Homo sapiens: one gene and its partners. The protein of the gene in region 5 purifies or fractionates together with the protein of the main gene of each other region. This does not show direct contact. Each region holds a gene or a part of one and is shown on either strand. Other genes may lie near its edges. The genes, in order: PNISR, TPBG, ACTR6, ZC3H14, SRSF11, GDA and SHCBP1.

The links.
Region 1: the proteins of SRSF11 (region 5) and PNISR fractionate together in Homo sapiens (co-fractionation; one large-scale study listed by BioGRID). This does not show direct contact.
Region 2: the proteins of SRSF11 (region 5) and TPBG fractionate together in Homo sapiens (co-fractionation; one large-scale study listed by BioGRID). This does not show direct contact.
Region 3: the proteins of SRSF11 (region 5) and ACTR6 fractionate together in Homo sapiens (co-fractionation; one large-scale study listed by BioGRID). This does not show direct contact.
Region 4: the proteins of SRSF11 (region 5) and ZC3H14 purify together in Homo sapiens (affinity purification with mass spectrometry; one large-scale study listed by BioGRID and IntAct). This does not show direct contact.
Region 6: the proteins of SRSF11 (region 5) and GDA purify together in Homo sapiens (affinity purification with mass spectrometry; one large-scale study listed by BioGRID and IntAct). This does not show direct contact.
Region 7: the proteins of SRSF11 (region 5) and SHCBP1 fractionate together in Homo sapiens (co-fractionation; one large-scale study listed by BioGRID). This does not show direct contact.

Annotation. Positions count from the first base shown.
Region 1 is NC_000006.12:99,422,509-99,426,710, reverse strand, and holds the start of PNISR (arginine/serine-rich protein PNISR), read left to right. Parts: upstream 1-1,402; 5' UTR 1,403-1,496; intron 1,497-1,596; exon of another isoform or gene 1,597-1,840; intron 1,841-4,202.
Region 2 is NC_000006.12:82,362,607-82,366,616, forward strand, and holds the start of TPBG (trophoblast glycoprotein precursor), read left to right. Parts: upstream 1-1,210; 5' UTR 1,211-1,302; intron 1,303-1,637; exon of another isoform or gene 1,638-1,723; intron 1,724-2,016; 5' UTR 2,017-2,355; coding exon 2,356-3,618; 3' UTR 3,619-4,010. UniProt on the Homo sapiens protein: May function as an inhibitor of Wnt/beta-catenin signaling by indirectly interacting with LRP6 and blocking Wnt3a-dependent LRP6 internalization.
Region 3 is NC_000012.12:100,221,315-100,224,814, reverse strand, and holds the end of ACTR6 (actin-related protein 6), read right to left. Parts: intron 1,030-3,500; coding exon 900-1,029; 3' UTR 391-899; downstream 1-390. UniProt on the Homo sapiens protein: Required for formation and/or maintenance of proper nucleolar structure and function. Plays a dual role in the regulation of ribosomal DNA (rDNA) transcription.
Region 4 is NC_000014.9:88,622,037-88,625,066, reverse strand, and holds part of ZC3H14 (zinc finger CCCH domain-containing protein 14), read right to left. Parts: 3' UTR 2,464-3,030; coding exon of another isoform or gene 2,349-2,463; 3' UTR 98-2,348; coding exon of another isoform or gene 1-97. Other genes in the region: EML5 (echinoderm microtubule-associated protein-like 5), read left to right, coding at 1-97, 2,349-2,463. UniProt on the Homo sapiens protein: RNA-binding protein involved in the biogenesis of circular RNAs (circRNAs), which are produced by back-splicing circularization of pre-mRNAs.
Region 5 is NC_000001.11:70,227,880-70,231,379, forward strand, and holds part of SRSF11 (serine/arginine-rich splicing factor 11), read left to right. Parts: intron 1-542; coding exon 543-676; intron 677-2,833; exon of another isoform or gene 2,834-3,500. UniProt on the Homo sapiens protein: May function in pre-mRNA splicing.
Region 6 is NC_000009.12:72,225,940-72,229,439, forward strand, and holds part of GDA (guanine deaminase), read left to right. Parts: intron 1-2,003; coding exon 2,004-2,101; intron 2,102-3,500. UniProt on the Homo sapiens protein: Catalyzes the hydrolytic deamination of guanine, producing xanthine and ammonia.
Region 7 is NC_000016.10:46,614,880-46,618,379, reverse strand, and holds part of SHCBP1 (SHC SH2 domain-binding protein 1), read left to right. Parts: intron 1-7; coding exon 8-175; intron 176-630; coding exon 631-746; intron 747-2,225; coding exon 2,226-2,434; intron 2,435-3,500. UniProt on the Homo sapiens protein: May play a role in signaling pathways governing cellular proliferation, cell growth and differentiation. May be a component of a novel signaling pathway downstream of Shc. Acts as a positive regulator of FGF signaling in neural progenitor cells.

The DNA of each region.
Region 1 (4,202 bases), on a different chromosome or scaffold from region 5:
TTAGGGAAAGGGTCAGAGAAATAGGGATTTCCTTTTGCCTTCAGTAGTATCCTCATGAACCTGCGTCATGGTGTTGTTAGGTGTAATTAATGAAGGTTTCTCACAAGATAAAATGTTATTTTGAGGACCACGTCCGTGGATTGGAGGAAAGGCAGATGGTTAGCTAGTGACGACTTTATTATAATGCTAATTCAGGAGTATCTGGGTCTCTAGTGCTGAGGAAAACTGAATTTTCATGCAAAGGGCATCTATATTTTCACATCTGTATCTTTATCCATCTAGCTGTGCTCTTACTATTTTGTTTCTACGGTAATTTGCTATTTCTTTTGCACGACAATTGCCCAATGAAATAATTCAGATACTTCGTGCACTTTGTCACGCAGAAGTTTTCATGTTACTCTCTGGAAAGGCACTTCCCAAGATGTAGCTAATAAACACTGTATCTTTGGAACATTTTTGTTTTCCTTTTAACTTGTAGCTCCTAGCCTGGAAATTGATACTTTTGACACTTGAACGTTGTTCATATAAAAACACTGTGAAATCAACATACTGTCTTTGAGGAATGGCATTGCATGCGTCCTTTTGAGAAGCCATCTTGTAGTTGAAGGAAAGCAGCAGGACGGAAACCAGACTTCCCCCCCACGGTTCCCTAAAAGTCACGGATAAAGAATGAAAAACCGGGACTAGTTAAGCCAAGGAGAGAAGAGCAAGTGTTCCCGGAAGGGGGCGCGATGTGTTGAGGTTAACAAAGAGAAAGACAGCTGCGGGGTCAGCTAAGGTCTCCGCTTTCGCTACCGACCCAGACTGCTCACCTTCACAAACTCACGTTTTCCTCAAGCGGCACCCTCGGCAGCGCTCAAGTGAGAGTATTCCATCCTTGGAATACTCCGAGAAGGTTCGAGCCAGAAGTTGGATTGCCTGAAATGCCGCTTCCAGCGCACTAAGTAACTTGAACTGCGCTAAGCAACTGGCCAGAATTGGTTTGGTTTGGTTTGACCCTGGGGTTCCTCCGTAGTCTGTAAGTGGAGTTGCGAACTCAACCCCTTCTCCAAGGCGGGAGTGTTTCTAGGAGGGAACATACTTCCCCTTAAAGGAAGATCACGTTGCTAAAGTAAAAAATTTGAAGGCGCCCTATGTGTAGAACACTTACGTTCTTGGCTTTCTGGCCACTATAAAGATGGGTCGGGAATGGCGCCAGCTACGTTAAAAAGTAACGTGCAGGAATGGTTCAGTTGCCCGGTGTTGACCAGAGTAGAGATGGTTTTGCCCACAAAAAAAATGGCGCCGAAACATGTCAATCCGCACAATCACGTGTTCACAAACCTGGATGAGAGATGGTATGGCTTCAGATGACAAACGGATGTTATTATTCTTTACTTCCGGGTGAGACAAATCGGGCGCCATCTTGTCTTGTTCCCGAAGAAGTAGAAGCATCGAAAGCGTTGGAGAGGTGTTACCGGAACGGCGGCGACAAGGGTGTTCCCGAACTAGAGTGGGTAAGTGATGGAGAACAATTATACGTGGGCACTTGCCGGACCATTACAACGTTCTTGGTTTCTGTGGCGAAGGTAGCATAACTTAAAATAGGCTGCGTACGCTGCTTGGCGCGACCGCTGGAACCTCATTCCTTTAAAGCGCTGCGGTCCGCCAGACTTGGTAAATCAGAGCGCTGCTTTCGCTGAAAAGGAAATGTCCTTGTTAAAGAGAGTGCTCACGGTCCCATCTTCTCACAGAGTTTCCTCTCGGACGAGAAGGGACTAATTGTTGGGTTCCTGACCGGCCGTTAAACACTGCGCGTGCGCAGTGGGAACCCCCTTGTGGGAAGGGGGTTCATGGGGGCGGAGGAGGCGGGGGCTCGCGACCTGGAGCTTATACCCTTTGAGGCTCTGACTACGCAGGCGCAGTTCCTTAGTTTGTGTTTTTCGTGTGTTCTTACCCAATGATGGATATTATGTGTTAAGCTTCGCTAAAGGTAGTATCCAATATTTCAGTTTTTTACCCTGTGGTGGATAGTATCGTCATCTGAACAAATTGAGCATTAGACAAATTTGTTTGTGGGTTGTTAAATTAACATTCTAGCTTAAGATTTTAATTCAACATTAATCTTTTACATCTTTTTACTTCCCCCTGCCCCCAAGTAAAACAAAATAAACTTAGAATTCCTCATTTGAGTGCAGCAGGGCGAAAACAACAGCAACCAGACTACTAAAGATTTTACTTGTGGAATTTTTTTGTAAAGTGGCAAAGGGCTTATAGAGAAAACAGTTCTTTAAAGATGTTCTTGAGAGTTTTTTTTTTTAACTTACTAATAGACTTTATGTTTTAGAACAGTTTTTGTTTACGTTGAGCACATACGACGTCCCCACTACACACACAGTTTATCTTCTTATTAATAGATGTTAGTATGGTACATTTGTTGCAACTAATGAACCAATAATGATAAATTATTAACTAAGGTCCATAGTTTATTCCTACTTCCTCACATTTTACCTAAAGTCCTTTTTCTGTTCCAGGATGCCAGCTAGGATATCACATTACATTTAGTTGTTGTATATTCTTAGGCTGTATATTCTTGGCTGTGACAGTTTCTCAGGCTTAACTAGTTTTTGATGACTGTTAAGGGCTGACTTGTGCCCCTCTAAAATTCGTATCTTGAAGTCCTAACCTCAGTACCCCAGAACGTGACTGTATTTGGAGAGAGGGTCTTTAAAGAAGATGAGGTCACTAGGGTGGACCTTAGCCCAATATATTAATAACTGCTGTCCTTATAAGAAGAGAGTAGGATACAGAGGGATGATCATGTGAAGACATAGGGAGAAGACAACCATCCACAAGCCAAGGAGAGAGGCCTTAGAATGAAATCAACCCCATAGAGCTTACACTATACGCCTCCAGAACAGTGAGGAAATAAATTTCTGTTGCTTAAGCCACCCAGTCTTTGGTACTTTGTTATGGCAAGCATACCAAACTAATACAGTGACCTTGACATTTTTTGAGGAGTATGGTCAGGTATATTGTAGGGTGCCCTGCTATTGGAATTTGCCAGACGATTTTCTCATGATTAAAATGGCCTTACGGACTATATCAGGGGAAGATCACAGAGGTAAGATGCCCTTTTCAACACATGCTATCAAGGATACATACTATCAAGGTGACTTATCACATTATTACTGACCTTGATCATCCTTCTGGAGTAGCGTTTGTTAGATTTATCCACTGTAAAGTTACTTCCCCCACCCCTTTTTATACTGTTCTCTTTGGAAGGAAGTCACTTTGCAGAGCCCACGCTTACTGAATGGACAGTTGTGCTCTTCCTCAGTTAGGGTGGAATATTTACATAATTTATTTGGAATTCTCTGTGGGAGATTTGTGTCTTCCCTCACATTTATTTGTTAGTTTATTTTATCATATCCTTATGGGCTTGTGGATGTTTATTACATAACTTATATTATAATCCAGTACTTCTTTATTTTGTTGCTCAAATTGTACCAGCTTTGGCCATTGGCAGCTCTTCGAGTTGTCTACTGTTCTCCTTTGACATGTTCCTATCAATTTTTTTTTTTTTAGCACTTTATTGCTTCCTGGCAGTATACATGCCCCAGACTCATCTTTTATATTTCCTGTCGCAGTCCTAGAGTCAGCTATTTCTTTAAAGATCTCTGATTCCTTTTATTGAAGAATGGTATTAAAACCAAGTTCTCGTGCCTAGGTGTGCTTGTTGCTACTAGGGTGTCATTTTGGGCGCTCTCGCTACATTTATTTTTAAATTATTATTGGGGGGGTATTTATAACCGACTCTCCAATTCTCCAGTTTTTTTTTTTTTTTTTTTTTTTGAGACAGAGTGTCACTCTGTTTCCCAGACCGGAGTGCAGTGGTGGCACAATCTTGGCTCATTGCAACCCCTGCCTCCCGGGTTCAAGTGATTCTCCTGCCTCAGCCTGCTAAGTAGCTGGGACTACAGGTATATGCCACCATGCCCAGCTAATTTCTGTATTTTCAGTAGAGTGGAGGTTTCGCCATGTTGGCCAGGCTGGTCTCGAATTCCTGGCCTCAAGTGATGAACCCACCTTGGCCTGCCAAAGTGCTGGGTTTACAGGCATGAGCCGCCATGCTTGTCCTCCACTTTTAAAATAGTCTTTTGAGCTACAAGCTGCAAGTATTTCAGTATATACTAAAATGCATGTCACATAAAGTAGCAAAA
Region 2 (4,010 bases), on a different chromosome or scaffold from region 5:
CTAAAGGCACATGTCCCAGGCACAAGCCTCAGGATCCTTATTTGATCTTTTTTAATACGACCAGGTCTTAAATTTCCGAACCATGTTTTCCCTAATTGCCATTTTCTCTCTAAAATGAAGAAGCCTGGAAGAACCTTCTTATCCCTTCGGGGAAATTATTTAATTGGGACAAAGGGGATGTGGAGTTACAGAGAGCAACGATAGGGCTTTCAGAACCCAAAACCTGTCTGGTATAATAACAGATCCTTCCGGTAACCAACCATTCAATTTGTCCCTCTCCCCAACCCCATCCTCTCCATCACCATCTGCCAGATGCCCCCTGGGACAATCGACTTTGAAACCAAACTTCTCTCCCAGGTCAGCTCCTGCAATCCCCACTCCTCATCCTTGGAGCTTTCTCCACAGAAGTGACTTGACACACCGCGCTACATCTGGGGAGGGGGGCGGGTCCGCTTTCCGGGAGACTCAAGTCTTTGCTATTTGCCTTTTGTTTCTGGGATGCCTTTGGCTGCCTTTCTCTTCCATCTGCTTTTAATTTTGGTAAGAGAAAAGCTAATGAATCAGGAATGAATCTCCTCTCCACTAATCTTTTTTTTTTCTTTCTCTCTCTCTCTCTCTTAAAGTTGGCGCGCTCTCTTCACAAGTTCCATCACTACCCAAGAAGTGAGGGGGCGGGGGGGACAGGCGGGAAGGCATTAATTACACCTAAATCTGAAGTTTGCGGCCTCAAGTACCACTTTGATGGGGAGAGCTTCTGAAGCTTCCATACAACCTGCCGTGCCTTTGCTGCTGCCGCAGTAGATTTTCAGCTCATTTCTTTCTGCTGCTGCTTCGCGCTGCTCTGTCATGCCTAAATCTATCTCGTCACTGCCAAAGGTGCCTGAATCAGGGTGAATTCCACGAGATTCACCAGCGGTTTTGCTCCAGTCCAAGGTAAATACAGTATGCAAAATGAGGAACCACCCAAGGATGTCGGGGAGGGGGGAGAGAAAGGGATTCCCTCACCTTTTCCGGCACATTCCTCGTTAATTTCCACCAGGAGGAGGCGCGCAGCCCAGCTCCCCTAGTCTCTCTTCTTAAATCCCCCTACCTACGGCTGCCGAGGTTGGCCGCGCGTCGGGAATCTCCCCGACAGTCCTGGCCCTCCCCCGCCCCCCGGGTTGGTTTTTCCCAGCTGCGGAGGTTGGGAGGTTGGGCCAGGGGCTGGGGTGCGAAGAGAGTCGGCGCCCGCAACGCGGAGCCGGGAAGTCGTCGCTACTCTGGTGGAACTCAGAGTTGGTTCTGGAGGCGGCGGACGCGGAGGTGAGCAGTGGGAGCCCGCGGCCTGGGAGAGACCCGGGAGGCGTCGTTGGGGCCCCTCCCCATCCTCGGGTGGAGAGTAGGGTTGGTTCGGGTTGCCACTGTACCCCGAGTCCCACTGCTGCTTTGTTCCCAGACTCTCCCCTCCTCTTTGGAGATGACTTGAACCCCTTTGAGATCCGAGGGGCTGGCGGGGCGCGGGCTGGGGGGCGACAGTTGTAGCTCCACTTCCTGCTAATGCGAGAAGGTACAAAAAGAGATCAAAAAGTCCTGTAACCTGAAACTTCCCTCGCATCCTAACCGGGACCTGGTGGAGAGGTCTGGGCGGGGGCGGAGACACCCGGAGGCCGACCTTCCGCCGAGGCGGTGCAGGAAGGAACGGGAGAGGGAGAAGTTTGGTAGGGAAGGAATTGGGGATTAAGCGGTAAGTTAGACGCGGGAGACGAGTCTCCTCGGGAAAGGCGGAGGGCGGGAGGCCGGTCGGGTTTATTTAGTGTGGGCCAGGGAAGAAGGAAGACTTTGCGGTCTGGGTGTCGGATGCGCGTCCCCCTCCGGAGTAAAAGTGACCGGAGGGGTTGGGGAGGCGAGGCCGGGGCGGGCTTTTGGAAGGAGGTCTCTGGGACAGACTGGAGACGACTAGACTCGAAAAGGCCGGTTTTTGCACTCCGGAAGCCGCGGCAGCCACCGCTGTTCACGCCTCTCTCCTGCTTGTCCCAGGTCCCTCAGAGGATCCAGCGAGGGGCGCCAACAAGAGGCGAAGAGGTGGCACCAGGGCGGCGGCAGGAAGAGGAGCGGGAGCAGGAGCGCGGAGCGGAGCGTCCCGACCCGCCGTGCGTACTTTCTGGAGGGAAGGGGCGGGGGAATCGGCCCCTGAGGGAAGCGCCCGGTGGCGAGGGGGTTAGCCAAGTTCCGGCTGCGGCGCCACTCCCTCGGTTCCACGAGAGGAAAGTTTTTTTTTTCCAGACGCTTCCGCCGGCTCGCGCCCTCCGGGCCCAGCCTCCCGAGCCTTCGGAGCGGGCGCCGTCCCAGCCCAGCTCCGGGGAAACGCGAGCCGCGATGCCTGGGGGGTGCTCCCGGGGCCCCGCCGCCGGGGACGGGCGTCTGCGGCTGGCGCGACTAGCGCTGGTACTCCTGGGCTGGGTCTCCTCGTCTTCTCCCACCTCCTCGGCATCCTCCTTCTCCTCCTCGGCGCCGTTCCTGGCTTCCGCCGTGTCCGCCCAGCCCCCGCTGCCGGACCAGTGCCCCGCGCTGTGCGAGTGCTCCGAGGCAGCGCGCACAGTCAAGTGCGTTAACCGCAATCTGACCGAGGTGCCCACGGACCTGCCCGCCTACGTGCGCAACCTCTTCCTTACCGGCAACCAGCTGGCCGTGCTCCCTGCCGGCGCCTTCGCCCGCCGGCCGCCGCTGGCGGAGCTGGCCGCGCTCAACCTCAGCGGCAGCCGCCTGGACGAGGTGCGCGCGGGCGCCTTCGAGCATCTGCCCAGCCTGCGCCAGCTCGACCTCAGCCACAACCCACTGGCCGACCTCAGTCCCTTCGCTTTCTCGGGCAGCAATGCCAGCGTCTCGGCCCCCAGTCCCCTTGTGGAACTGATCCTGAACCACATCGTGCCCCCTGAAGATGAGCGGCAGAACCGGAGCTTCGAGGGCATGGTGGTGGCGGCCCTGCTGGCGGGCCGTGCACTGCAGGGGCTCCGCCGCTTGGAGCTGGCCAGCAACCACTTCCTTTACCTGCCGCGGGATGTGCTGGCCCAACTGCCCAGCCTCAGGCACCTGGACTTAAGTAATAATTCGCTGGTGAGCCTGACCTACGTGTCCTTCCGCAACCTGACACATCTAGAAAGCCTCCACCTGGAGGACAATGCCCTCAAGGTCCTTCACAATGGCACCCTGGCTGAGTTGCAAGGTCTACCCCACATTAGGGTTTTCCTGGACAACAATCCCTGGGTCTGCGACTGCCACATGGCAGACATGGTGACCTGGCTCAAGGAAACAGAGGTAGTGCAGGGCAAAGACCGGCTCACCTGTGCATATCCGGAAAAAATGAGGAATCGGGTCCTCTTGGAACTCAACAGTGCTGACCTGGACTGTGACCCGATTCTTCCCCCATCCCTGCAAACCTCTTATGTCTTCCTGGGTATTGTTTTAGCCCTGATAGGCGCTATTTTCCTCCTGGTTTTGTATTTGAACCGCAAGGGGATAAAAAAGTGGATGCATAACATCAGAGATGCCTGCAGGGATCACATGGAAGGGTATCATTACAGATATGAAATCAATGCGGACCCCAGATTAACGAACCTCAGTTCTAACTCGGATGTCTGAGAAATATTAGAGGACAGACCAAGGACAACTCTGCATGAGATGTAGACTTAAGCTTTATCCCTACTAGGCTTGCTCCACTTTCATCCTCCACTATAGATACAACGGACTTTGACTAAAAGCAGTGAAGGGGATTTGCTTCCTTGTTATGTAAAGTTTCTCGGTGTGTTCTGTTAATGTAAGACGATGAACAGTTGTGTATAGTGTTTTACCCTCTTCTTTTTCTTGGAACTCCTCAACACGTATGGAGGGATTTTTCAGGTTTCAGCATGAACATGGGCTTCTTGCTGTCTGTCTCTCTCTCAGTACAGTTCAAGGTGTAGCAAGTGTACCCACACAGATAGCATTCAACAAAAGCTGCCTCAACTTTTTCGAGAAAAATACTTTATTCATAA
Region 3 (3,500 bases), on a different chromosome or scaffold from region 5:
GCTCATGCCTGTAATCCCAACATTTTGGGAGGCCAAGGCGGGCAGATCACTTGAGCTCAGGAGTTCAACACCAGGCTGGCCAACAAGGTGAAACCCTGTCTCTACTAAAAATACAAAAATTAGCCAGGTGTGGTGGTGGTGGCACACGCCTGTAATCCCAGCTACTCGGGAGGCTGCGGTAGGAGAATCGCTTGAACCTGGGAAGCGGAGGTTGCAGTGAGCCAAGATCACGCCGCTGCACTCCAGCCTGGGTGAGAGAACAAGGCTCCGTCTCAAAAAAAAAAAAAAAAAAAGTTCTTGAACAACCCTGAGTTAACTTCAAATCTCTTTTCATTCATCCTAAAAAAAATAGTACTTTTATGAGTGAAATAAGATATTCTGCCCACACAGTAGTGGCCAAAAAAACTTTATTAGCTTAGTCTCCACCCTTTTAAATGTACTCTAGGTACAAAATAAACATTATACACATATAAGATCAGTCTTTCCAACTTTAGAATGTATAAATAAGAATGACATTTTAAAATAAAATAGTTTAGTCACAGTCACACAAAACTACCTTCTAAGGAAAACTGTCCAGTGAAGCCGTTAAATTTGTGCTTTCAGCTATGAAGAATTAAACTTAAAATGCATTCATTCTTCTTTTAATGAAAAATAACCTACCCTTGGAAACAGCATAAGCATTGTTATGGTAGTCTAGCTCCTAAATGAAAATGTGGACTGAGTTACAGTTTACTGTAGTAACCTACCTAAGAAGCCTTTGAAAATTAGCAATCGATCAAAGTATTTACATAAATTCAAGCCTTTTTCTTAGGACAAAAGGTAACACAGTTCCTTAACCTCTTTTAAAAGGAACTTTGAAATTAAACCTTATGGTCACAACTTTCATTCAAAAATGTTGCTTAAATATCAAATTTCTCTTCACAGACGCTATGTCCATTTTCTTCGTAATCTTCTCTTGTTACCACCATATCTTCAAAATCATCATTCTCTGATATCAATTTTCCACCTTCCCAGGCATAAGTAATAGGGCTGAAAATAAAGGTATAAATGAACCCAGATGATTTTACAGGAAAACTGAAATGCCTGAAACATAAATTACTATTAGGTTGGTGCAAAAGTAATTTGTGTTTTTTTTGCCATTAAAATGTGGCAAGCTCTACCCAACCCAACAGAAAATTGTTTAAGGTACAGAAATAAGCATACATTTCATATGAGTAGAGCAACCCAAAAAGGAAAGGAACCTTGTTTACCGCTACAAAATAGTAAATGTTCCTTTTTCCCTATGTCCTGAATTTATGGACCCTCTAATTCTAAAGAAAAAACAAGGATATAAGCAAAAGATCAAAAGATGCCTAAAAGGAAAAACTGTCATACTGAGTCTAAATTCTGTATGTGGCAAAGATATGTCATCTCAATAATTCTCATAGCAACTCATAAAATAGCTATTACTCCCACTTTCTTTCTTTTTTTTTTTGAGACGGAGTCTCACTCTATCGCCCAGGCTGGAGTGCAGTGGCACGATCTCAGCTCACTGCAACCTCTGCCTCCCAGGTTCAAACGTTTCTCCTGCTTCAGCCTCCGAAGTAGCTGGGACTACAGGCACATGCCACCACACATGGCTAATTTTTTTTGTATTTTTAGTAGAGGTGGGGTTTCACCATGTTGGCCAGGCTGGTCTTGAACTCCTGACCTCAGGTGATCCACACACCTCGACCTCCCAAAGTGCTGGGATTATAGTTGTGAGCCACCACACCCAGCCTACTCCCACTTTCTAGATTTGAAAAATGAGGCTCAGAGAAGTTAAGTCTGGAACTAGAATTTAGGCTGGAACTAGGATTTAACTCAGAACTGTTTTCACAGTCTGTGCTTTTGCTGATAGACTTTGTTGCCTCTAATAAATGAAACAGAAAACATAGTGTATGATAAACAATTATGTGGGAAGACACAGACAATAGGTAAAATTAGAGCAGGTAAAACATCTAGTTTGGTTTTGCTATCTACAACCAAGGTTATACTATGTGTTATGACTCAATTCTGTTTCTACTATTCTTTTTCCCCAGTTTAGAGTTTCAAATCTGAAAAAGGTAAAGAAAAATGTTAAATCAATATTTTCTAGCCAAGTATGATGGCATATACCTGTAGTCCTAGCTACTTAGGAGGCTCAGGCAGGAGGATTGCTTGGACCCAGGAGTTCAAAGTTGCAGTGAGCTATGATCACACAAGTGACAGAGGGAGACTTTGTCTCTATTAAAACAAAGGTCGGTTATGGTGGCTCATACCTGTAATCCCAGCACTTTGGTAGGTCGAGGTGGGAGGACTGCTTGAGCCCAGGAGTTCAAGACCAGCCTGAGCAACATAGCAAGATCCCATCTCTACCAAAAATTTTAAAAATTAGCCAGGCATGGTGGCTCATGCATGCAGTCCCAGCTACATGGAAGGCTGTGGTGAAAGGATCACCTGAGTCCAGAGGTCAAGGGTGCAGTGAGCCGTGATCATACCACTGCACTCCAGCCTGGTAACAGAGCGAGACTGTGTCTCAAAAAAAAAAAAAAAAAAACCCAAAGCCAGGCGCAGTAGCTCACACCTGTAATCTAAGCACTTTGGGAGGCCAAGGCAGGCGGATCACAAGGTCAGGAGTTTGAGACCCGCCTGGCCAACATGGTGAAACCCCATCTCTACTAAAAATACAAAAATTAGCCAGGCATGATGGCATGTACCTGTAGTCCCAGCTATTCGGGAGGCTGAGGCAGGAGAATCGCTTGAACCTGGGAGGCGGAGGTTGTGGTGAGCCAAGACTGCGCCACTGCACTACAGCCTGAGCAACAGAGTGAGACTCCATCTCAAAAAATAAAAAAAAAATTGAAAAAAATTTTAAAAACCCCCCAAAACACAACTTGGCTGGGCTAAGGCAGATTACTGAGCCCAGGAGTTGGAGGCCAGCTTGGGTGAAACAGTGAGACTCCATCTCTACAGCAAAAAAAAAGGTTTTCTTTTCTTTCTTTTTTCCTTCTTTTTTTTTAGAGACGGGGTCAAACACTGTTGCCCAGGCTGGAGTGCAGTGACGCAATCCTAACTGACTGTAACCTCAAACTCCTGGACTCAAGCCATCTCCCTACCTTGGCCACCCAAAGTGGTAGAATTACAGGTGTGAGCCACCAAACCTGGCCAATAAATGTTTTATTGTATTTATATTTGCATTAAGCTTTTATAAAAATAGATTTATATATAAGTATACACATATATTTATACATATATAAAAGCAGTAGACGCACAATAAAAATTTATTTAATAAAATAATAAGACCTATTTCTGTGGATCCCTTGGCCTGTAATCTGTGCATGCAAGAGAAAAAGCCAATATGCTTTATAGTCTTAAGAACATATGAACATTAGTGGTGATAAAAATCATCCCAATATTTTTAAATTGTTTATTCATTTATCTCATAGCTATAAAAGAAAGTGATACCAATGAGGGCCTTCTATTAACTTGCTGATTTTGGA
Region 4 (3,030 bases), on a different chromosome or scaffold from region 5:
TGTGTAGAATCGTGGCGAGAGCTCACAACGGGCCTGTGTTTGCCATGTACACCACCCTGCGAGATGGACTTATCGTGACTGGGGGAAAGGAAAGGCCGTGAGTCCTCTTTCTTTTCACAGAATATTTATGCATTTGTGACCTACCTGAGGTTTGCAGTTAATTATTCTAGTTGTTTCTAGGCTACACAGAGTGTCCTCTCCGACCTTCCTCCTCATATGCTTCTCCTTTATTACCTTTTATGTGCCTTCTATTTGATTCTCATTTCTGGTCTTAATTCACTTCCAATTTTTTTCATGTTGGGGTGATACTTTTTCTGAGGTGTGGATAGGTAGTTGTCCTACAAGTTGAGTTACTTTTCTTAATGTCTGTATGCCTGTGTATGATTTGCTGAGTAGGAGGCCCATGGGGGAATCTGGAGCCAGGGTTGTATTTTGACTGCCTGCTCTCTTTTTGTTCAGAATGGATTCTAAGGAGTAGAATGCACATTGTTGCTTTAGAAAAGGATGAGGGAACTAGAGAGAACTGCCTTGTTTCCTTTTGCTTGAGGCAAATTTAAACTGTTTTATACAAGACCTCAAAATTTGAGAAGAGGTCTCTTCTGAGTGATTTTCAAATCTCCCAACAGTAACCAGATACTTATGATTTGATTTGTCACCAACATAGTCATATGCATGTTGAAACATGACATGTAGGCCAGGCACAGTGGCTCACACCTGTAATCTTATCACTTTGGGAGGCTGAGGCAGGTGGATCGCTTGAGCCCAGGAGTTCAAGACCAGCCTGGGCAACATGGTGAAACCCCATCGCTATAAAAAACAACAATTAGCCGGGTGTGGTGGCACATGCCTGTAGTCCCTGCTACTCAGGAGGCTGAGGTGGGAGGATCACTTGAGCCTGGGGAGGTCAAGGCTTTAGTGAGCTGTGATGGTGCCACTGCACTCCAGCCTGGGTGACAGAGTGAGACCCCATTTAAAAAACAAAAACAAAAACAAAAAAAAATGTGACATATAGTTGACTAAGAAGTACATTTCAATACAGGATTGAAAGAACCCACATATGTTAATTAAACACAAGCGCAGAATTTGTGCCTTTTACATAAAGGAAGAATGCACATAGGCATGCTTTCAGACAAGCAATTCATCTAGCAGAAAAGGAAGGAATACATTTTTCAGCCCTTCCAGGAATAAAATCCATAAATGGGCTCTATTTCGTCCTCCAACACTTGTATTTCCCACGTCATTTACTCCTGCACACCCCCACTCACTAGAAGCCTGCTAAACTGTTCCAGTGAGATATTTTAACACCTGATAGGGAATAAATATGCTTCTGTTTTGGCCTTCAAAAATAAGCTCTGGGCCAGTTGCAGTGGCTCACGCCTGTAATCCCAACACTTTGGGAGGCCGAGGTGGGCGGATCACGAGGTCAGGAGTTTGGGATCAGCCTGGCCAATATGGTGAAACTCCATCTCTACTAAAAATACAAAAATTAGCCAGGCATGGTGCCTGTAATCCCAGCTACTTGGGAGGCTGAAGGAGAAGAATCGCTTGAACCTGGGAGGCACAGGTTGCAGTGAGCCGAGATCACACCACTGCACTCCAGGCCAGGTGACAGAGCGACACTCTGTCTCAAAAAAATAAATAAATCAACTCTGTAGCATAGCATTTGTAATTCTATTATTTTGCCTTACATTTCCATTATCCTTTTAATAAAATTGTTTTTTTACATCTTCCTAATCAAGAAGTATTATGAGGCCAGGCACAGTGGCTCATACCTGGAATCCCAGCACTTTGGGAGGCCGAGGCAGGCAGATCACCTGAGGTCAAGGTATTTGAGACCAGCCTGGCCAACATGGTGAAACCCCATCTCTACTAAAAATACAGAAATTAGCTGGGTGTGGTGGTGCACACCTGTAATGCTAGCTACTCGGGAGGCTGAGGTAGGAGAATCGCTTGAACCTGGGAGGCAGAGGTTGCAATAAGCCTAGATCATGCCACTGCACTCAAGCCTGGGAGACAGAGCGAGACTACATCTTAAAAAAAAAAAAAAAAGTATTATGAGAGAGGATAATGTATTGTAATGTATTGTAGAGGCTAAATAAAATTATGCTCATGTCAGAAAAAAAGAGTATTTCTCAAAATAAAATTCACTGAAACTGGATGTTTATTTTGACTGAGATATAGTATATCCTCAAATTGCCATAGAAAGTTTACAAGAATATTAGAGGTAAATTATAAATATCAGGGCCTTTTTAAAAAAAAAAGATTCTGCTTATAACTTGGTATTTGTTTATAATAAAAATTATAGTAGCCAATAATGAACACTTACTCTGGCTTGGTTATTTACTTAGGTCAAAAGAAGGAGGAGCGGTTAAACTGTGGGATCAGGAACTGAGGCGGTGCCGTGCCTTCAGGCTTGAGACAGGACAAGCCACAGATTGTGTTCGTTCTGTGTGCAGAGGCAAAGTAAGATGTTCCATGAGCTGATACAGTGCAGCAGAAAACAGAAAGTGGTTATTACTGTGATTCCCTCACCCTTTGCAGCCTAATGAACAATACTTAATAATGCATAACGATGGATTTGCTTGCCAACATTACTCTGTCTTTGCTGCTTTCTTTGCCAAAGTTAGCACCAGTGTGGTGCATAAGCTAGGAAGCTATTCTGTCTAAATACTGTATGTAAACCTCCAATATTTTCTAGAATCTGCCAATTTAACAACTCTAGTAGACATAATTGAAAGCCCTTGGCAGTTGACTCATATTAGGACAGCTGTCTCCATTTTTTAAAAAAACACACATTCCCTAGATAAAACGTGCAGTAAACAAACAATGAAATACTACTCAGCCATAAAAAATAATGAAATTCTGTCATTCTTGGTGGCAACATGGATGAGACTGGAGGACATGATGTGAAGTGAAATAAGCCAGGCACAGAAAGATAAATACATGTTCTCACTCCTGTGCAGAAACTAAAAAAGTTGATCCCACAGAGGTGGAGAGTAGAATAGTGGTTACTGGAGGCGGACAAGGGGG
Region 5 (3,500 bases):
TTATTTACAGTGCATAAGAGTTCTTACATGCTGTGGGTAAAAGAGTGCAGGGCATGGAACCTGTTTATTTTATGCAGTTCAAGAAAACTCATTGATTATTGAGTACATGTTCGTTCTCATGATATTCATTTGTCCCTGATATAAAAATTGTTCATCTTTCTTACTCTGAGAAAGCCATTAGGAAGTTTCTAAGCCCCAAACTACTGTTACCTGTATCTAAAAATAGCTGGTATTGGTATTATAAAGAAACTGTTGACAATTTTGTGGTCCCCTCAGTCTCTGAGACTTCAGTACCAAATTGTTTTTAACCTGATACACTGTAAATATAAGTTATGATTATAAGTTTTTATCTGAACTGCAATTCACTACATTATTTCAGTGAACAGTATATGATTGAGAATGTTTTCTTTTGAATTTAACTACATTAGTATACAGTTAGGTTTTTTTAATCTGTTTTACTTTTGAAATGTGTTGGTTTGTGAATTAGCATTTGTTTTAACTGCTATTCTGTTTCTCTTTTATGTTATTTGTTTATTTTTTAGTGATTCGCCTTTGCCAGTCTCATCTCGTGTCTGCTTTGTTAAGTTCCATGATCCAGACTCAGCAGTTGTGGCACAGCATCTGACAAACACTGTATTCGTTGACAGAGCTTTGATAGTCGTACCATATGCAGAAGGTTTGTGCTTTGTTTAACTACCTATGTGGGCATCCTAAGATGACCATCTACCTCAGTAGATGTAGAGTGAGCATTAGTAGCATGTTAAATCTAAGCTATTAACATTTTTAAACCCTTGTTATACTGCAGTCCGTAATTTTTGCTTGCAGATTTTTTTTAATTCTAAAAATTAGAAATTAGGTCTGTTATTATAAGGTATTTACCTTTTGTTTTCTTTTAAAACATTTTTAAGTTGTTTAAAACCATGTCCCTTATTGTAACTCCCTGAGATACATCTACTTAGTTAATTTAATGTTAAGTTTTATGAAAAAGCCCTGAAGGTAAATGATTCACTCCATGTATGCTTACAGAGCCTTCAAATAAATGCATGATGTTATTTCTGTTTTAAATAAATGAGTAGGTTGATTTTATTTTCTTAAAGCTTCCTCACATTGATAATCTGGAAAAAAAAAAAACACATTGAATTTCAGTATACCAAGGGTTGCAGTGATTTTGGTTTTCGTGAAAGTTCAAGATTTCCTGTAGCTTAGGTGCCAAATGGGCACTGGGTGTTTTATTTTATGCCAGATTTTCTTGTTCATTCTTGCTATATTTCTAGAATATCTCTAAATAATAAATTCTTCTCTCTGTTATTTGTGTGTGTGATTTTTATAGTGGAGAAGGCAAATGCAAAACCCTTCCAGATGCCTGAAAAACAGTGGGTCCTCTGCAGCTACAGGGGATTCTAGACATTAACTAAAGGCCAGCAAGCACTCAAGTGCCCCAAGTGTTTTCCTGGTGTAACCATTTGTTAACTACATTTTCTCTCTTTTTACATTTTAGGCTGTTAAAGTAATTTGACAGAAAAAAATGAGCAGGTTTTTTGGATCTAAAAAGCCACTGTGACAAGAAATTTTAATACCATTTTGTAAAATTTTCTAAGGCGTATTTTATAATTAGTTTGTTCCCAATGTACTGCTACTTGATTTGCATTTTGGTAACTATAAATTTTACTCGAATCACTGAAATATGATAAAACTGCTGGATTTTAAGTTAATAATTTAATATGCTGACCAGGATTTAAATGCTTTCCCCTTTCCTTAATAAACTGGTCAGTGGAAGTGGAATCTTAATATTGTTCATTTTAGATGCTATCTGAAATCTTTGAAAACAAATGTGAGCATTTACACCATACCTTGTAAAAGTTGTGAAATGTCTAGTCCTTAACAGAGAAGTTGCCTCTGGTTTTCTAAAGAAATTAACTTATATTTATAAATGGGTTAAGACATGTTATGTAATAGTACCTCTGTCTCCATGATATTAAAGTGTATGAGCCCAGTTTTAAGGTTTTGTAATGTATAGATAGATAAATTTTTGAGTTAGTGTGTTTTGGTTAAGCAATTTCTTTTATGTCAGTGTGCCTGTTGTAGGATAAGACCATCAACAGAAAATTTACAGAATTCAAATTCAGGATGAATAAAATAGAGTATAGGTCTTGGAACAAGGGTCAAATCATGTGAGTAATATGTAAAACATTTTGGTTAGCCTGTAAATTTAAATTTTTTATTGGCTAAGTATTATAGTTCCCAATCCCTGAACATAATACAGTATATCATATAAATGACTTTCATAAATATTTTCAGGCCATAGTAATTTTTCTAGACCTATTTTTGGAAGTGAAGTATTTAGGAATATACAGTATATAGAATTAGGGGAATATTTCATTCAGAATTCTATTGTTGGTGAATTTAATTCTGGTATGATATGCTGTATTAATGTTACCTCCAGTAAATACAATTCCCTCCAGATTTAGCTATTACACTTCGGTGTTAGCTCTTGGTCAGTGTTTTAGAACAGTAGACATAGTCTACGGTAAGGAATAGTCTTAATTGGTAAAACTAAGATAGCTGAATTTGGAAGGAACTCTTAATAGTAATGGATTTGGGGATTTTTTAGGTTCCTTGGTTAATGTTTGTTTCTTTTGTCTGTTTCTTTTTCTTTCATTTCTACACATTCATGCAGTATTTCATGGTTCTATCAAAGCAGCAGTAAAAAAAATACTCTTGACGCATGAAAATTAACTGGTGAGGGGCCTCATTGCTATTTTTAAATTGTAGTTTTATTTTTAAATAGTCTTTTTTTAATCAGAGGATCAGATGCATGACTTTTTTTTTTTTAATGGATGCAGATCTTCTATCAGGTGTCTCACAATAAATTCAAGAGGATTTTAGTTTGCCAGAAATGTTGCAAATGCACTAATTTGAGTAAGATGTTGATACTGAATATATCCTCTTGAGACATAATTTTGCATGCAAAATTATCCCATAATCTTTGTAGGTTTGTTAATATTGATGCATTACTGCCCTATATCTAAATGATCTTCTCCCCCTTCCCCTCCATAACTCTTGGTATCTAAATTGATGACAGCTCTGACACAAGCAAGATAACAGTGCTGTGTAGTATACATTTGTTTATATTATCGGCACTTCTCAGTATAGGTGGAAGGAACCATTACCTTTATTTAACAGTGGTTTTTCTTTTTTGTTGTTGTGTTTTACAGTTCTTTTCCCTGGTTCAGCCTGAACTATATACCAGGCCCTGCTGAAAATACCACCCAACAGTTTTCTTCTGCAGCTTATCCAGTTTCTCTTAAGTGCCCTGTACATATTGTATGTTTTATGATGAGATGCAGTTTCTTAATATGTATTACAGAAATACTACTGGTATTTGCAAATATGTAGTTTAATTGTATTATTGAACTCTCATTTTGGGGGCTTGGGCACATTAACAGATTAATCCATCTGTATAGGGCTTTTGCTGTTGGATAGAATTTAAATTGTCTACA
Region 6 (3,500 bases), on a different chromosome or scaffold from region 5:
TATCTATGGGGTACATGTGTATACATTTCTTAAATTAGAGTAAAGCCTAGTGTGTGTGTGTGTGTGTGTGTGTGTGCGTGTGTGTGTGTGTGTGTAGTTAAAAATGGACCCGAAGTTTCATCTTAGTGAATTAAATGTAAAGGCTTCATTGAAGATGGGAATGTCATTTGGTCCAAGGACATTTTAACAGTATCTATTAGAATGTAAACCTACATTTCTTTGAGTCAGCAGATGCATTTCTAAGAATTCACTCTAAGTAATATGAATAGGGATGCTAATTTTATATTAAAGTTTAAAAATTGTTATCGGTGAGGGATTAAATTACAGAGCATACATAGGATTTTATCCAGCATTCACAAAGAAAGAGGTATGCAGGCTTACAAGGAAGAATGTTTGTGTAATATTATTTGATGTGTATGTACATATGTATAGATGCATGCTTACTTAGAAAAAAACTGTCTGAAAGACACAACTTGAGTATTAAAAATGACTCTTCCTGAGGGACAAACCAGAAGGACTTTCTGCTTTTTATTTTTAAATACTCTGAGAGTGCTTTTAAAAAATGAGTATGCATTACTCCTATAATTAAAATTAATATGTGTGAAGAGACCTCATTACAATAATGTACTACTTGGCCTTGGCCTTCAATGAAATGTACAAACCGCATGGAGAGTTTACCATAGCAAATAATTTCTTAGTGACTGTGTGAATGGAGATATGAATATAACTGATTTAAAAGGTTAATACTTTGCATAAATCATGTAAAAGCTACACCATAGTTTTCATTCTTTATATATTTTCCATATGATTAATAAATTAACCTTCCATTTGCATGTTAATTTTATTTGAACAGAGATTGGGAAAGTTATATTTTAATAATAATTCTGTAGTCACTGGGCCGGGCCTGGTGGCTCATGTCTGTAATCCCAGCACTTTGGGAGGCAGAGGCAGGCAGATCACGAGGTCAGGAGATCGAGACCATCCTGGCTAACACGGTGAAACCCCGTCTCTACTAAAAATACAAAAAAATTAGCCAGGCGTGGTGGCAGGCGCCTGTAGTCCCAGCTACTCGGGAAGCTGAGATAGGAGAATGGCGTGAACCCAGGAGGCGGAGCTTGCAGAGAGTCGAGATTGCGCCACTGCACTCCAGCCTGGGCGACAGAGTGAGACTCTGTCTCAGAAAAATAATAATTCTGTAGTCACTGAACCGTGCCTCTCAAAGGGGAAAGCAAGTTGGGTACAGGTTTTGTACTGAGAGAAAAATAATTTTGAAAGAGTAAAGTCTTATTTAAGAAAATCTACAAATAAATACTACCAACATTAAAAATTTAGAGAGGTCTCATGTGTGTGCAGTGCCTGCTTTCTTGGATCAATTTTACTTTCTGAATTAATGATTATAAGATGTTAAATTTCCTAGTTTTTATGAAAATATAAACGTAGGTGAGTTAAAAGTTTATTTAGTTGAAAATATCAAGGCCATTGGCACTTACATTGAAGCTAGGAGCAGAAATAAAGAACAGCGCTTTGCAGGATTACTCTCACAGCTTTCACATACTGAGAAGGGACTTTTAGTTCTAGAAAGTTTTTTTAGAATTGGAGCAAGCACAACACTACCAGTTGCTTCCCATATAAACTTAGAAAAGAAAGTAACTTGACAGTCTTCTAAAGTAGAGATGAGAAAATCATGTTATCTTCCATCTGGATGGATATTCTGTGCTGTAGATCACCTGGACCAAACCCTCATTACTTTATAGATCAACAAAAAGAATCTAAGTAAACTCCACAAATTTCCTGAGACTTTCGTAAGACAATGTGTTTACAGGCCTTTTCTAAGGTATAACTTGTACCTAGCAACTTTGTACATATAGATCATCATAAATGTTCTTGTGAAGATGCTAACAGCCAAGCTACAGCTTCGGTCTCTCTCTAAAATACCTTGTGAGTGAGTACCCACTTAATCATTTGTGAGCGGTAAACTCCACGTAGGGCACTCTTCTCTCCAGACAGTGATGGCACACGGCTGCTACCTCTCTGCAGAAGAACTGAACGTATTCCATGAACGAGGAGCATCCATCGCACACTGTCCCAATTCTAATTTATCGTAAGTAGACAATGATTGTTTGGTAGATTACGAATGATTGGGTTGCAGATTAGCAGCCAAATGCCTTTGTTTCCTCTGTCATTCCTCCAGGATCTCCCCTCTATTCTGTGTTTGGCAGGACCCAGATAGATAGACATTTACTCGTGCTGTTGAGGAGTAAAAGAGAACACGTAAGAGGACATTTATCTCAGAGGACACGTGAAGAGCACAGCATCTTCTGAAATCTCTGAGTTTGTACAAAAAAAGGACAATAGGGAATACAACATAAAAAATTTACAGTGAAAGTACTGAAAGAACCCATATGTCAGCCAGGAAATCCAGAAGAGGGTAGTCACTCCCATTACTGTTTGTGCTGTAGTGTGAGAAGGAAACACAGCAATACCAAAGCAAATGCACTATGATGTATGTTACCCTGTTGGACCTGACGGAATGCCAGCCCACACAGGCAAGCCCAGGAGGACCTTGTCCTATTATAATTCCCCAGAATACAGAGGTGTTATTTATTAACTGGTTCTTAACCTTTTGAAAGGTGATGGATCCGTAAATGAATAAAATGAAAGTTATTGCCTGGGCGCAGTGGCTCACATCTGTAATCCTAGCACTTTGGGAAGCAGAGGCAGGCAGATCACTTGAGGTCAGGAGTTCAAGACCACCCTGACCAACATGGTGAAACCCCATCAGTATTAAACATATAAAAATTAGCTGGGCATGGTGGCAGGCACCTGTAATCCCAACCACTCAGGAGGCTGAGGCAAGAGAATCGTTTGAACCCGGGAGGCGGAGGTTGCAGTGAGCCAAGATTGCACCACTGCACTCCAGCCTGGGTGACAGAGTGAGACTCTGTCTCAGAAAAATAAATAAGTTATAGCCTGTAATTTCAGGGGAAAAAAGCCCATGGATATTACAAGTGTTGCATCTAATTTCAGGGAATTCATAGATCTCATGATGCCAGTCCATGGATGCTAGGTTAAAAACCCATGCTTGTGGCTGTAATCTCAGAAAACAACTTCAGGGGTCGGGCGTGGTGGCTCACACCTCTAATCCCAGCACTTTGGGAGGCCAAGGTGGGCGGATCACGAGGTCAGGAGATCGAGACCATCCCGGCTAACACGGTGAAACCCAGTCTCTACTAAAAAAAAAAAAAAAAAAAAAAAAAAAATATTAGCCGGGCATGGTGGCGGGCGCCTGTAGTCCCAGCTACTCGTGAGGCTGAGGCAGGAGAATGGCATGAACCCGAGAGGCGGAGCTTGCAGTGAGCCGAGATCGCGCCACTGCACTCCAACCTGGGCGACAGAGCAAGACTCCATCTCAAAAACAAAACAAAACAAACAAACAAACAAACAAAACCTTCAGGGAAGTAAAACAGGGAAGGGAAAGAAGTCAGTGAAGATCGTATCAT
Region 7 (3,500 bases), on a different chromosome or scaffold from region 5:
TTTTTAGGTTTGTTCCAAGATGAAGATTCATGCAGTGATTGTAGCTACCGTGATAAACCAGGTTCTAGTTTACAAAGTTTTATGCCAGAAGGAAAAACCTTTTTCCCAGAAATTTTCCAAACAAATCAACTTTTGTTCTATGAGCGATTCAGAGCCTATCAAGATTACATTTTAGGTGAGTAGGTTTTTTGCTTTTTTTTTTTGAGATGGAGTTTCGCTCTTGTTGTCCAGGCTGGAGTGCGATGGTGCGATCTCGGCTCACCGCAACCTCCGCCTCCCAGGTTCAGGTGATTCTCCTGCCTCAGCCTCCCTAGTAGCTGGGATTACAGGCATGCGCCATACCACCAGATAATTTTGTGTTTTTACTAGAGACGGGGTTTCTCCATTTTCGTCAGGCTGGTCTTGAACTCCCGACCTCAGGTGATCCCCCTGCCTCGGCCTCCCAAAGTGCTGGGATTATAGGCATGAGCCACTGCCTGGCTGGTTTTTTGCATCTTTTATCTTTTTAGTTTGCAAGTAGATTATCTATTTCAGTCCCTCAGATTGCCAGTTGTTTCTGAGAAAGTGGATTTATTAACTTCCCTCTGCTTTATGCATTCTCAATTCTTCCTGTGTTTAATTTGTTTGTAGCTGACTGCAAGGCCTCTGAGGTACAGGAATTCACAGCTGAGTTCTTGGAGAAGGTCCTTGAGCCATCTGGATGGCGGGCAGTCTGGCACACTAATGTGTTCAAGGTGCTGGTTGAGGTAAGGTTAATTTTGTTATTAGACCTTTGTCTCTAGCTTTAAGCACTTTACTTCAGACTGTTATATCCAAAGTGCTTATTTTTAATTAAAGTTTATGAGCTGATTCAAATAGCATGTTTTTCACATCTAATTGCCATGTTGTAGGAAGTGTTCTGCAAATTTTAAAGGCAACTGAGGAGTTGTTACCAGGGAATTAAACTGGTTCAAATTAATTAAAAGAAGGTATTTGAGATCACTTAAAAAATTAGGCCTAATTATGAAGTTAATGGTTTCAAAAAAGTGTTTAACTTCTTAATTGTAATTCGTTAAGCAGCTCAAACCTAAGAGGCATTTTTATTTATTTATTTTTTTTAAGATGAAGTCTCACTGTGTTGCTCAGGCTGGAGTGCAGTGGGACGATCTCGGCTCACTGCAACCTCTGCTAAGAGGCATTTTTAAACTAGCCCAGTTTTTGCCTAGCAAATTTGTTTATATGTGGTTAATCTCTTGACAGTGTGTCCCATTGCAGAATGTAAAAACAGTCTTATTCTTCTTCTCACTAGGCCTTTTAGATTACATTTGCATTCTAATTACAGCTTTGAATTTTTCTCAGTGTTTGTTAACTGACCACAAAAAGCCCTAGTAAACTAAAATGTCAAACCAGGGAGTGTGAATACAAGTTGTTGCTGCAGCTCCCTTAGAAAATGGCATCACATACTACAGTGATTATGTACAAGGCAGTGGATTGCAGCTATTGCTTGTGAGTTTTAAAATTTTGGATTGTGCTAATATTTTTTGGTTGAAGTTCAGGCCTATTCATTTGGTTATGATAAGTGCCCCCCCGCCAATCAGTTCTCCGAAAACAATGAAAGTCATTGTTTTAAAACAGAAGCATGCCATTTCTCTGCTTAAAACTCCTAAGATATTGTCTTTACCAAGGGCTTAGTGTTGGCTTTATGGCTTCTCATTGTATAGAAAACACTTAAAATCCAAGCTCCTTCAGATGTCCTTCATGTCCTGGTCTCGTTGCCTCTCTTTCTCACCTCATATCTTGCTGCTCCACTGCACACCGCCCCCCTCCTCCATTTCCTCCCTTTGGCTCCAGCAAGAAGGACTGCCTTTCCGCTCCTCCAGCTGCCAAGCCTGTCTCTGCCACAGGCCTTCTGTGCTTTCCCAGCTCTTCAGATGGCCGCTTCCTTCTCATCCTCCTCAGCCTGGCTCAGAGCTGACTTCCTTGCCCATCTCAGCAGAACAAGATCCCCACCCCTGCTAGTTATTCTCTGTCACCTACTGGTTATCATTGTGTTTGTTGATCTCCCTGATTACAGTGTAAGCTCCATGAGGGTAAGAGGCAGCCTGTCTTGTTCATCCTTTATATTATGGGTAAAGCCTCCCCACCCATGTTGTATGCTTTTAAAAAAATCAGGTTGTCAGTAGTGTCTTATAGGTGTATCTTCATTTTGATTTCCATGTGTTAAGTCACATTATTTTAAATTTCAGATCACAGATGTGGACTTTGCAGCCTTGAAGGCAGTGGTGAGGCTTGCTGAACCATACCTCTGTGACTCTCAAGTGAGCACTTTTACCATGGAGTGCATGAAGGAGCTCCTTGATCTGAAGGAGCATCGGTTGCCCCTGCAGGAGCTGTGGGTGGTGTTTGATGATTCAGGAGTGTTTGACCAGACAGCCCTTGCAATTGAGCATGTCAGGTAGGAAAAGAAGTTGAGAAAAATAACCTTGTGGCCAGAAACTTTGGATGAAATGAAGTAATTCTGGTCTGTGTTAGACCCAGATTTAAAACTCAACTGTAAACTTGGTCATTGCAATATTTAAAAATATCCAAAGATAGGATAATCTTTTTTAAATTAAAAAAAATTAAAAATGTTTTAAATCTTTTTTTTTATTTTTTAATTTTGAGACATAGTCTTGCTCTGTTGTCCAGGCTGGAGTGCAGTGGCATGATCTCGGCTCACTGCAACCTCCGCCTCCTGGGTTCAAGCAATTCTCCTGCCTCAGCCTCTCGAGTAGCTGGGATTACAGGTGTGCACCACCATGTCCTGCTAATTTTTGTATTTTTAGTAGAGATGAGGTTTCACTATGTTGGCCAGGTCAGTCTCGAACTCTTGACCTCAGGTGATCCACCTGCCTTGGCCTCCCAAAGTGCTGGGATTACAGGTGTGACCCACCGTGCACCTGGTCTAAAAATGTTTTAAATCATTTTATGATAATTTCAAACTTATAGAAAAGCTGACAAAACTAGTATAGTTGACTCTTGAATGATGTGGGGGTTAGGGGTGCCTATCTCCCCCCACCCCTACATAGTCAAAAATCTGAGTATAACATTTGACTCCCCCAAAACTTAACTACTAATAACTTACTGTTGACCAGAAAAGAAGCCTTACCATTAACATAAATAGTTGATTAGGACATATTTTCTATGTTATGTGTATTATCTTATAATAAAGTGCTAGAAAAAAGGAAATGTTAAGAAATTCATAAGGAAGAGAAAATGTATTTACTACTCATTAAGTGGAAGTGGATCATCATAAAGGTCTTTATCCTCATCATCTTCACCAGAGGAGGAAGAGGAAGAAGAGGGATTGGTCTTGCTGCCTCAGGGGCGGCAGAGGCAAAACAGGTGGAGGAGAGGTGGAAAGGGAGGCAGGAGATGCTGGCACACTCAGTGTAAATTATCAGTGGACCCCACAAAATTCAGACCTGTGTTCTTCAAGGGTCAAGTGTATAAAGAATTCCTGTTTATCTTTTACTTGGTTT